Linked DNA regions of Homo sapiens: all the other regions are linked to region 2. A link means that fine-mapping ties the variant in region 2 to the expression of a gene that starts in the linked region. Tissue or cell type: whole blood. Region 2 holds a variant in brackets; each other region holds the start of a gene. Each region is shown on its reference strand, or each on the opposite one. Region 1 holds the start of RGS18 (regulator of G protein signaling 18). Region 2 overlaps SLFN14 (schlafen family member 14). Region 3 holds the start of FKBP8 (FKBP prolyl isomerase 8).

Region 1 (4,241 bases), not on the chromosome of region 2:
CTTAGTTCTGTTGATCAGAAAATTGAATTACTGAAAATTAACAATCAGACAAAAATTTTGTGACCTATTGTTTCGGATAATTACATGCATAGTTTGTGTAATTTTCCATTAAGCACACAAAGTATTTGGTGAAAGTACCACTAACCTCTATGGGAAAGCAGTTTGTCAAATGATTCACCCCATTTCACTGCCTCTTCAGGGGAGACTCTGTACAAGAAACAAAATGTTTTATAATGGAGTGTGCAGAAAGTCTGTTTATGAATCTGTTCTAACATATGCTATTTTACTGCTCTTTTCAATTATATTTCACAGTTTCTCCTTTGATTATAATATAATGAAAATTGCATTTACATTAGAAACTTTGAAAACATTGTTCAATTTTCTTTTGGAATTTGTCTGTTGAATAATGTGTTGAAATAACATTATTTTTTTTCTCATGGATATGTGAGTTTTATTTTTTAATTAAAAATTAATCCTTTTTTAGGTTAAAGGGCACAGATAACAAATATAAAGAAATCAGGTCAACTATCTGTTTAAATTCAGCAAGTAGAAAAAAACTAAACTCACAGTATCTTTCAGTTAAAAAAAAATTATACTGCAATTTCCTTGAAGCTGTAACCACACTAGGCTGCAAATTTTTTTTTTAAACGGATACAGGAAGTTTGACTAATAAAGTTTCAAAGGGATAAGAAATATAAGATATTTTAATAGAAAAAATATTCTAGAGATGTTGGTAATGTGGAGAATTGAATATATTTTCTCGGATCTTTTTTATTATACTCTAATTTGGAAGAATTTGTATGAAACTAGTATATAAGGTTTTTGCATTTTCTTTTTGAATTAAATAAATGCTAAGTATTAAAAGACATTATTTGTGCTTTACTTGCTATAATGCGTGTGTTTTTTCAAACTACTGAAGAAAGAGATGAATATCTCTCTGCTATGACAATATTGCATTGTGAAAACTCTTAAATTAATGAGCATTTTATCAGGTTATAAGGAGTAAAACATGTCATTTAAAACTGACAGGTATATAATTTTAAAAGAGCAGCTTTAAGTGTTCACGTGATTATTCAATTCAAGCGATTTAATTCAAGTGATTTAATTTTATGAAATATTTCTAGTCTCTTCAAATGAAATTTCTAACTTTCCTTATATTGCTGTGTAATTTTCAATAAATCAGAAATCCCTAACTGCATTTTTCTTAAATCTTTAATGATAGAATCAGCAAAATCTTCCTCAAAATACTGAAAATTTATTCACCTTGTTTCTTTGGCCAAGTGCCCAGATCTACTGGAGCGGGTGTCTTCATGAAACTCAGGTTTCTGCACAAGAAGACTTAGTCTATTTCTTTTTTCCTTAGCTCTGTAATAAAAAGGCCTTCATGTCAGGACAATTTAGATGACAGTTAAAATCTCTCCTGCTGACTACCAGAAAATTTTGTAGTTGGTAAAAACCCACGCCCACCCATACCCACACACTCATGAATCCCATTTAAATATTGTATTTGTGGAGGAATTAGGGTAACATACGAAAATGTTTCTCCTTTTGCTCACCGACAATCAAGTATTTGAGATTATATTTCAATAAAGATTGCACTAGTTCCTCTATGTGGCTAACATTATTACACTTTTTTTTTAATGAGAACACTTTAGATTTCAGTTTGTTGTTTAAACCTAAGAAATAAAAAGGTGTTTTTTTTTCCCAAATTATAGCAATACAAACAATATATTTTCCACCCAATAGTTCAAAAACAAGAGGTAATGAATCTTCAACCTCAATTATGCTTTTAAAAGTATAAGGCTGACTTAAAATTGTACAATTTTACCTGATTTTGGCTTCTTTGCTTGTTTCTTCTTTTCCTGAACCATGTATTAACTTGAAAAAAGTTTTTTCTTTTGATTCACACATATTTATTTGAGAAAAGAAAAGCAATGTTGTTTCCATCTTCTCTCTAAAATGAAGAGATGTCTAATTTATTACATCCTTCCCTAGTTCATTTATTAATACTATTCCATACATATACATAGTAGAATAAAAAGTTATCACAACTCTTACAGTAATGTTTACAAAAAAGAAGTCAAGAGCTGCGTTTCTTTCTGTCTCTGCAGAAATGCAGAACTGAGGAAATGAAGTACAATTTGGTCCTAAGTTGTTTAGGGAAATGATACCACAAATTTGCAAAATGACTCTTGGTCTCTAAGATAAAGACTAGTCTTACCACAGTGCAACTTCTCGTTCAAGTTTGCGCAACCAGAATGATGCTTTAATAGACTCAAATAACACTGTCATTTCCCACAGGAACTTTTCAAAAAGTTTTTAAATGTGTGGACTGTGTGTTAAAATGTGTTATGGCAAAGTATTATATCAAACATTAGGAGATATTTTCTCCAGTTCTTAAAAAAGTATTTTTCTTATTGTTATTACATGAGTTAAGTAAATCACATTTAACTGACATAAGATTATGTAATGTTAATTACATTGGCTTAACATATTGTAACAAAATAAGACAATAGATCAGAATTTTATGGTTAAAAAAAGATTGTAGAAAGCATTTAATTTAACAGTTTTGGGCTGGGCACAGTAACTCATGCCTGTAATCTGGAGGCTAAGGTGGGCAGATTACCTGAGCTCAGGAGTTCAAGACCAGCCTGGGCAACATGGTGAGACCCCATCTCTACTAAAAATACAAAAAATTACCCAGGCACGGTGGTGTGCACCTACAGTCCCAGCTACTCAGGAGGCAGAGCCAGGAGAATCCCTTGAACCTGGGAGTCGGAGGTTGCAGTGAGCTGAGATCATGCCGGCTACTTCACTTCAGCCTGGGCAACGGAGCAAGACTCTGTCTCAAATAAATAAATAAAGTTTTAAGCACATATCTATAGAATGATTTTAGACATTTTTGAAATTTTTATCAGTCTGTGATGAAATGGAAAAAAATATGAAAAGTTTTTTTTCTTAAAGCTTTATTTTAATTCCTTTGATATAAAGGACTTGCTATTTTGAATTTGCTCTCCTGACTCTTTTGTTGTTAAAATGTTCTTTATAATGTAAAAATGTTCTTTATAATGACATGGATTAAGTAGAGATGGTAGTTTTTATATTTTAATGCCTTTATTAAAAAAAATGTTGACAACTCCAATTGGTTTAGCCTCCACTTCTTTCACTGTTTTATAGAATACAAAAGTCTTACAAATGCAGTTCTAGTCCATAATTCAAATTTTATTGAAAAATAAACCAAAGTTCACAGGCATTAGGTAATTTAATCCTACAAAGTTTCAGAGACAGGCCAGTGGAAAATCTGGAATTATCAGAGCCTTTGATCACCTACTATGTGCTTTAGTCCTTCCAAGAATCTTTGATCTCCAGTAGTGAATGCTTTAATCTAAAATGGTATATATTGAAAGCTGAGTTATACAAACCTAAAAGAAAATTTTATTTTCAGTCTTTTTGAATTATTTTTTTACCAAGACAATTTATCAGGGATACCAGCTAAAAGCTCAAAACATTTATCTATATGAAATTAAAGACTTTCTAGTATATATTTATACATATACCCCCTGATTCCATGACTTGTACTTTGAACATATTTTAAATCTCTCACCTTGGCTGAGAATTGAAAAATATTATGTATGATGGCATTTTGCATTGAGCTTCTGCTGGAAATGGATACTGATAATGCAGATTATGCTTCCACCCTGCTGTCCCCTAGTAATGATTAGTATCCACTGTGTTTATATCAGTTTAATCCTATGAAGGTGAATGAGCACAAGAGAAAATCATAGGAGCATGGACATCATCCAGTCACTAGGACTATAACTTAACTGTTAACTCAGAGAAGTTAAAGACATAAAATCAATATATTATTTTTCATAAGATATGTTAAATTTATGTGTGAAGTGTGCTATACACAATGCTGATAGAACCGTGGAAAAAGAAATTGTGAAAATACGGGCACAAGTTGCCGGGCACGGTGGCTCATACCTGTAATCCCAGCACTTTGGGAGGCTGAGGCAGGTGGATCATGAGGTCAGAAGTTCAAGACCAGCCTGGCCAAGATGGTGAAACCCCATCTCTACTAAAAATACAAAAATTATCCAGGCGTGGAGGCAGGTGCCTGTAATCCCAGCTACTGGGGAGGCTGAGGCAGAGAATTGCTTCAACCCGGGAGTCAGAGGTTGCAGTGAGCCGAGATCATGCCACTGCACTCCAGCCTGGGCGACAGAGTAAGACTCCATCCC
Region 2 (4,241 bases):
ATAGGGTTTGCTATTCAAAATCAATTAGATTTGTTTTGTGGGTCCCATCAGTGGAAGTTATGGGGAGACAAATTGCAGCTTAAAGTAAGGAGACCATTTCTAACACAGACGTCAGAAATTAGAAGGGACTAGAGGGACTATTTGATAGGTAGTGAGTTGCTCATTGCTGGAGGTTTGCAACTTGTTGGGAGTTGGCAATATTATAGAGGAGATTTTAGAATCCTATAGATTGTTGGACTGGAGGATCTTTAAAGTCCTTTCCAACACTTCTGTGATTCTATGATATAAATAGAATGTTATGGGAAATTTCCCTAAGGAGCCATAAAATACTACATTTACATGTACCTATAGAAGAGGCTCACATTCTAAAAAGAATTCCCCAGGTTGATTCTGGTTTTCCTGAAGGAAGTGAGAAGGCAACCAAGAACAAATTGATATCAGGGGAGTGCACATGTCTTGCCGGATGCCTGCTTTCTTCCTCTTGGTGAGTATATACAATGCCCACAGGGCCCCTGCTTTGCAAAGATCACACAGAAAGATGGGTTCTCTTCTCCTAGAGGAAGAATTTTGGTTGAGTTAGCAAATATTTTGTTTTGCAATTGACTAAAGGTAAGCAGATCTTTTCTGAAATATTTGTTTCAGAGCTCAAATTTCAGTTTAGGTGGCTGTTTTCTGGTCTAGGAAGCAAAAGAAGGGTGACAATGGTTTAGTTACCATGCCCCAAAAGCTCATGTTCTTTTCCAAGTCTTAGGGGTTTCCACAGCACAGGGCAGAACTATTAGAAGGGAAGGAAAATGCTGCTGTCACATCACACTGTATATGAGGCAATGTACTTTTGAGATTTAGAACATGTGAAGAGTTGAAAAGGTTTCTGCATTTGGTATCAACTGACATTCTTTCAGGAGTAAAATAAAGCTTTTCAAAGTGTATGAAATAATACATAAAAATATAGAATTTTATTTATTTACTTTTATTTTTATTTTTTTAGACAGGTTCCCACTCTGCTGCCCAGGCTGGAGTGCAGTGGTGCGATCATGGTTCACTGCAGCCTCAAACTCCTGGGCTCAAGAGATCCTCCCACCTCAGCCTCCTAGGTAGCTGGGACTGCAGGTGCGCACCACCATACCTGCCTAATGTTTAACATTTTTTTTTTTTTTATCTTTTGTCGAGATGGGGTCTTGCTATGTTGTCCACGCTGGTCTCAACTCCTGATCGAAAGCAATCCTCTCACATCCACCTCCCAAAGTGCTGAGATTACACATGTGAGCTACCACACCCAGCCTATGTTTGTGTTTATAGCAAGATCTTCTACAGTACATATACTGTAAAATTATACTTCCTTAGTTCTCTAGTGCCTTCCTTTCTTCCCCTTTTGAATTATAAATAAGAGCATCTTCTCACTTCAACTTCTATTTCTGCATATTCTCCAATACCTTCCTGGGCTCCTGTGCCAACCCATGCCCTTTATATCTGGGCTCAGTGTTGGCGTTTCCTGATTTGAAATGCAAAATGGCTGAAAATGTTAGCAATTTAATTTTTCCATTATGACAAATATTAGGCATTCACCTTTATCCATGCCTACTTATTCTGGCAAGGCTAAGGATATTTGGCAAAGTGATTAGAAAACAGCAGTATCAAAGATAATTTCCAGTTGGGTGCGGTGGCTCACATCTGTAATCCCAGCACTTTGGGAGGGAGGCCCAGGCAGGAGGATTGCAACGTAGCAAGACTCCATCTCTTAAAAAAAAAAAATAGCAAGAACAAAAAAGAAAAAAAAAATTAGCCAGGCTTGGTGGCACGTGTCTGTAGTCTCATCTACTAGGGAGACTGAAGTTGGAGAATCACTTGAACTGGGAGGTTGAGGTTGCAGAGAACTATTATTGTGCCACTGCACTCCAACCTGCATAACAGAGCAAGATTCTATCTCAAAAACAAACAAACAAAACTAAAAAACCCAAAACAAACAACAACAACAAATATACATATAGAGAGAGATGACTTCCAACATTAAAATATATCTCCAGTAATTGATAGTTTTGAAGAAAATATTGTAATCTTTGGAATTCTTATTAATATAGAAACAATATTTCTGTCCTGATTATAGGAACTCCTTTCTTTTATTGTTTGGAGCACAGAGGGGCTGCTGAAATGGAGAGTCTCAAGACTGATACTGAAATGCCGTATCCTGAGGTAATAGTAGATGTGGGCAGAGTGATTTTTGGAGAAGAAAACAGGAAGAAGATGACCAACAGCTGTTTGAAAAGATCTGAGAATTCTAGAATTATCCGGGCTATATGTGCACTGTTAAATTCTGGAGGTGGTGTGATCAAAGCAGAGATTGATGATAAAACCTATAGTTACCAATGCCATGGGCTGGGACAGGATTTGGAAACTTCTTTTCAAAAGCTCCTTCCTTCAGGTTCAC[A/G]GAAATACCTTGACTACATGCAGCAGGGGCACAATCTCCTGATTTTTGTGAAGTCATGGAGCCCAGATGTTTTCAGCCTTCCACTAAGGATTTGCAGCTTGCGCTCCAATTTGTATCGGAGAGATGTGACTTCTGCTATCAACTTGAGTGCTAGCAGTGCCCTGGAGCTTCTCAGAGAGAAGGGGTTTAGAGCCCAAAGAGGAAGACCAAGGGTGAAGAAGTTGCATCCTCAGCAGGTTCTCAATAGATGCATTCAGGAAGAGGAAGATATGAGGATATTGGCCTCAGAATTTTTTAAAAAGGACAAACTCATGTATAAGGAGAAACTCAACTTTACTGAGTCAACACATGTTGAATTTAAAAGGTTCACCACCAAAAAAGTCATACCTCGGATTAAGGAAATGCTGCCTCATTATGTTTCTGCATTTGCCAACACTCAAGGGGGATATGTCCTCATTGGGGTGGATGATAAGAGCAAAGAAGTGGTTGGATGTAAGTGGGAAAAAGTGAATCCTGACTTACTAAAAAAAGAAATCGAAAACTGCATAGAAAAATTGCCTACATTCCACTTCTGCTGTGAGAAGCCAAAGGTAAATTTCACTACAAAAATCCTGAATGTGTACCAAAAAGATGTCCTGGATGGTTATGTCTGTGTGATTCAAGTGGAGCCCTTCTGTTGCGTGGTGTTTGCAGAGGCCCCAGATTCCTGGATCATGAAAGACAATTCTGTCACACGGCTGACAGCTGAGCAGTGGGTGGTCATGATGCTGGATACTCAGTCAGGTAAAGGGAAGTGAAGTCATTGTCCCCATCAGCAGGGAGGAACCCCTTTCTCTGCCTTTTGTGGGTATTTGATCACATATGTTAGTTAAAAAATAGAAATTTATTTTTCTTATAAGTGTTCTCCCATTACAGTGTTCCTTATCTAACATTTTTAGTTCCAAAGACTCAGAATATAAACTGAGGTCAAGAAATGTTTGGATTCTATGGCCTAAACAACTTTTTTTTCTTTAGACTCTGTCACCCAGGCTGGAGTGCAGTGGTGTGACCTCGGCTCACTGCAAACTCCACCTCCCAGGTGCAAGTGATTCTCGTGCTTCAGCCTCCCAAGTAGCTGGGATTACAGGCACACACCACCATGTCGGCTAATTTTTGTATTTTTAATAGAGATGGGGTTTTGCCATGTTGCCCAGGCTGGTCTTGAACTTCTAACCTCAAGTGATCAACTCACCTCCACCTCCCAAACTGCTGGGATTACAGGTGTGAGCCACCACTCCTGGCCAGCCTAAGCAACTTTTAAAGGAAAGTTACAGTATGCCATCAGCAATGAGTTAGGAAAGGTCTCCTTTTATTGTCTATAAACCTGTTGAAAAAATTGTGCAGGCTGATCATCCCAGTCAAAATTGGAATAGCCTCATTTTAGAGATGATATTCTAGAGAAACACTGTTTAAGAATAACTCTGAGGCTGGGCGCAGTCCTAGCACTTTGGGAGGCCAAGGTGGGCAGATTGCCTAAGCCCAGGAGTTTGAGACCAGCCTGGCCAAAATAGCGAAGCCCTATCTCTCCCCCAAATATAAAAATTAGCCAGGCGTGGTGGTGTATGCCTGTAGTCCCAGCTACATGGGAGGCTGAGGTGGGAGGATTGCTTGAGCCTGGGAGGTGGAGGTTGTAGTCAGCCAAGATCACTCCACTGCACTCCAGCCTAAGCAACAGAGCGAGACCCCGTCTCAAAAAAATAAATAAATAAAAATAAAAAAATAAAAATAAATGACTCCACTACTCCACTAATTCTTTCAAGCAAAACATTGTTGACAA
Region 3 (4,241 bases), not on the chromosome of region 2:
ATAAGTAAACTAGTTTGGGAAGCCGAGGCAGGCAGATCATGAGGTCAGGAGTTCCAGACCATCCTGGCCAACATGGTGAAACCCTGTCTCTACTAAAAATATACAAATTAGCTGGGCATGGTGGCGGGTGCCTGTAGTCCCAGCTACTCAGGAGGCTGAAGCAGGAGAATCGTTGGAACTTAGGAGGTGGATGTTGCAGTGAGCCGAGATCGCGCCACTGCACTCCAGCCTGGCGACAGAGAGAGACTCTGTCTCAAAAAAAAAAGAGAAAGAAAAAAAAAAAAAAGGCCAGGCACGATGGCTCATGCCTGTAATCTTTGGTACATCGAGGTGGGCGGATCACGTGAGGTCGGGAGTTTGAGACCAGCCTGACCAACATGAAGAAATCCCGTGTCTACTAAAAATACAAAGTTAGCCAGGCATGGTGGTGCATGCCTCTACTCCCAGCTACTTGGAAGGCTGAGGCAGGAGAATCGCTTGAACCTGGGAGGCAGCGGTTGCGGTGAGCTGAGATTGCGCCATTGCACTCCAGCTTGGGCAACAAGAGTGAAACTTCTTCTCAAAAAACAAAAACAAACAAACAAACAAAAAACCCAAGTAAACTAGTTATGAAGTGGACGTTCATCAACTTCATTGTGCCAAGACAGCTAAAGGGGGCACCTGGTCTTGCCTTGGGGAGGTTGGGAGGGCTTCCTGTAGGAGGTAACCTGGGAACTCCAACCTTAGAAGTGATCTCCAAAAAGCCAGTTACCACCTCCATGATAGCTACCTCCAAAAGCTGGTGTCTGACTCATCCATCCATCCATCCATCCATCCATCCATCCATCCATCCACCTACCCATTTATTGAGCTTCTATAGATGCCAGGCATGGTTCAAGGAGGTGCTGGGTACAAATCAGGTAAAAATCTCTGCCAGGATGAAGCAGAGTGAGGGATGGTCCCTCCAACCACAAGCAAAATAATGACAAGATAATTCTGGAAGGAGTAACTGCTAGGAAGGAAATAAAACTGAGTGAAGGAGGGAGAAGTGTCCCGGTTTCAAAACAAGATCCACAAAAACTTAGCTAATCAAGGATGCCACCTTCTTCCCGAGCCATGGGGACCTTATCACCCTCCAGCAGACAGTGCATAGAGGAGGAACTCCTCCCAGTGGCCCTGCTGGCTCAGTCGCCTGCGCAGCAGTAATCGAGCGCCTCCAGTATGCACCAGGCAACCTTCTAGACATTAAACTGTGTGGGGGATGGGAGGGAGGTTTCTGTATGCCTTTGGGCACGTCACTCCTCCTCAGGCCCTCAGGTTCACTTCTGTAACTAAGGCTTCAGGATGGGTCATTCAGCAACCCCAGAGCTGCCCTGCCCGTCAAGCTTGAACTCTTTAAGGAAATAACATTTAGAGTGGACTGTGCCCCCAGCAGCCCCCAAGGTGAGAGTGCATAGATGGGGGTGTTTATCCCCATTTCGCAGATGGTCAGGATGAAGCTCAGAGGAGAGGCAGGAGTCGCACAGGCTGCGCGATACTGACCCGTGTTGGGGTCCAGCCCAGGGTCCCCCGCCCCCGCCCCAGCCCCCGCCCCAGCCCCCGCCCCAGCCCCCGCCCCAGCCCCAGCAGCCGGGAGGCTTCGGTCCCTTTAAGAACGCCCCGCGGGGCCAAGCAGGAAGGGGGAGGTGCCAACGCCCGGGACGGACGTCTGCATGAGCCAACGGGTGCGGCAGTCGCGGCAGCGGCGGCCAATGGGCACGGCAGGGGCGGGGCCAAGCGGCCGAACCTGGTTCCCGAGGCGCGGCGGCCGCGGCTGGGGGCGGGGAGGGGGGCGCAGGACCCCAAGTGGGGGTCCCGGAGCCAGAGGCAAGTGTCCTGGGGTGCTGGGGGCGCCGTGCCGGCCGGGCCGCTGCCCTGGCCTAGGCTGGTCCGGGGGCTAGCGCGCCGGGGGCTGCGGCCGATGGGCGGGGCGAGGGGCCGCGGGGGTGGCGAGCCGGGGGGGCACGGGGGTCGGGGGTGCCCGAGGGGGCGCGGCCGGGCGGGGGTGGCCAGGGATGGGGGTCACTGGGGGCAAAGGGGATCCAGTGGGGGGGTCCCGATGGAGGCGTGCAGGGCCAGGGGCGCCCGAGGCGTGCGGGGGTCGGGTGCCCCAGACTGGTGGCGTCAGACAGGCGTGGGTCGTTGGGGGCCTGGGTCGCGGCTTGACTGAGGGCCCGGCCGGGGCTGTGGGGCGTCAGGAGAGCGTGGGGTGTTATGGGATCGGAAAGGGGGGGGCGTCTGGGGACACTGGAGTGTTTACGGCGAGACGGAGCGGCTGTGGGGGGAGCTGGCCCGTGCTGGGGGCGGTGGTGGTTGGGGTGGGGGGTGGGAGGGGAGGCCGAATTGTGCGGGCGCGGGGAATTATGGGGGTGGGGGCTGGGAGGGTCTCTCAAAGTGGGGCTCCGAGCCCGGGAGGAGCAGGCAGGTGAGGGTTAGGGAGGGGATGCGGCGGGCTGGTTTGATGGCTGTGCCACACTCTTCTGAGCTTGGGGCCTGGGGGACGGAGGGGTTGGTTATTGGTTCAGGAGGTCTGGGGCAAGGAAGAGGCTGTAGAATGTGGTGGGACCTCGACCACTCCTGGAAAGGAGGCTGCTTTGAGGGGGTGGGACCGAGGCCTGATGAGAGGAGGATGGTCTCCTGGGGAAGGATTTGGGCCAGGGTCCCTGATGTTGGGGTTGTGGGGGATAGTGTTAGATTCAGAGTGTGGAAGGAAAAAACGCTTGGGGTTTCTGGGTGATTACAGTTGGTGCTTTTGGGGAGGGTCTCCCCTTTGGAGAAGAGGCTGGAGGTGGGAGGCCCTGGTAAAAGATTCAATTTCCCCCAGTGGCCTTAGAGGCTCTAAAAATGGCTTCCCTAAGGCCTCGGAGGCTGTCCTCTCCACAAAAATCCCAGCACCCTTCGCTCAGCTTATAATCAGGCAAAGCCACAGGGCCTGAAGCCCCAGGTTCAAATCCTCCTTTGGCCTTTGGCTTTCTCTGTGACCTTGGGCAAATGCCTTTGCCCCTCTGGCCTGTTTCCTGTTCTGCAAAATGTTGAGGGGAATCTTCCCTACTTCCTGGAGTATTTGTAAACATTAAATAATAATTAGCTCTAATAATGGCTAACACTATTTGAGCCTGATGCCAAGGGCTTGATGCATGGGTTAATTTCTCCCAACAAGCTGGGGTTGTTGTTACACCCACTGTATAGATGAGGAAACTGAGGCCTGGAGCCCTTGAGTTACACAGAAAGTGATCGGCAGTGTGGGGAATCAGTACAGTGGAGACTTTGAGGGGCTGTGTAGGATTCTGACCCACATCTCTGCCCCCCACTTCCAGGGCCAATTCCTGTCCCCCCAGCAGCATGGCATCGTGTGCTGAACCCTCTGAGCCCTCTGCCCCACTGCCCGCCGGGGTCCCACCGCTCGAGGACTTCGAGGTACTGGATGGGGTTGAGGATGCAGAGGGTGAGGAGGAAGAGGAGGAGGAAGAGGAGGAAGAGGATGACCTGAGTGAGCTGCCACCGCTGGAGGACATGGGACAACCCCCGGCGGAGGAGGCTGAGCAGCCTGGGGCCCTGGCCCGAGAGTTCCTTGCTGCCATGGAGCCCGAGCCCGCCCCAGCCCCGGCCCCAGAAGAGTGGCTGGACATTCTGGGTAAGGAGCAAAGGTGGATCAGGGTGCCCTTGGCCCTGGCCCTCTCGTCCCCTGAGCCTCATTTCCCCATCTGTGCTGTGAGGGTTGGAAGTCACGTGGTCACCACCGTGATCACCAGCCAGAGGCAACTACTGGAGATGCTTCACATTGATGTACTCTATCCACTGACTCACACACATGCACAATGTGCTGTGTCCCCGTTTCCCAGATCTGCTAACAGTGGCTCAGAGAGGCTGAGTCACCTGCCCAGAGCCACACAGCCAGCACGCCAGGCGCTGGCAGCTCCTAACCCCATCAATGCATCTTTTTTTGGCATTTGTCTGACACATGCTTGGGCTCTGAAAAATGTGTCCTGAGTGCACGCCAGCCTGGGCAACACAGCGAGACCCCAACTTCCAAAACAAAAAATGTGTTCTGGGGTCAAGTGGATCAGAGGAATGTTATTTTGTTCAGCCTTCTGGTTGGTTCACAGTAGTGATAGTATTGTAAATGCTCAGAGCAATCCTACAAGAAGAAAACTACATGAGCCCCCACATGTTCCCCCCAACATACCCCATCACAGCAACTGAAAACAAGAGAAATGTTAGTT

What was found. PIP is the estimated chance that this variant, and not a neighbour inherited with it, causes the effect.
Region 1: RGS18 starts here. The variant in region 2 is the best candidate, but not a certain one, in a credible set for the expression of RGS18 in whole blood (TOPMed, PIP 0.73).
Region 3: FKBP8 starts here. The variant in region 2 is fine-mapped to the expression of FKBP8 in whole blood (TOPMed, PIP above 0.99).

What each region holds. Positions count from the first base shown.
Region 1 is chr1:192,156,344-192,160,584 of GRCh38, reverse strand. RGS18 (regulator of G protein signaling 18) reads right to left here and starts at 2,123. Exons shown (of 5, transcript NM_130782.3): 1 at 1,829-2,123; 2 at 1,264-1,365; 3 at 146-207. The coding sequence starts at 1,947.
Region 2 is chr17:35,555,970-35,560,210 of GRCh38, reverse strand. SLFN14 (schlafen family member 14) reads left to right here. Exons shown (of 6, transcript NM_001129820.2): 2 at 406-484; 3 at 2,105-3,208. The coding sequence starts at 2,149. Among named protein-coding and RNA genes, the nearest start is that of SLFN14, 2.7 kb to the left of the region's middle. The variant A/G (reference allele first, on the strand shown) is at 2,426.
Region 3 is chr19:18,541,090-18,545,330 of GRCh38, reverse strand. It overlaps FKBP8 (FKBP prolyl isomerase 8), which reads left to right and starts at 1,758. Exons shown (of 9, transcript NM_012181.5): 1 at 1,758-1,845; 2 at 3,336-3,652. The coding sequence starts at 3,361. RefSeq lists a silencer at 1,513-1,942 and an enhancer at 3,505-4,005.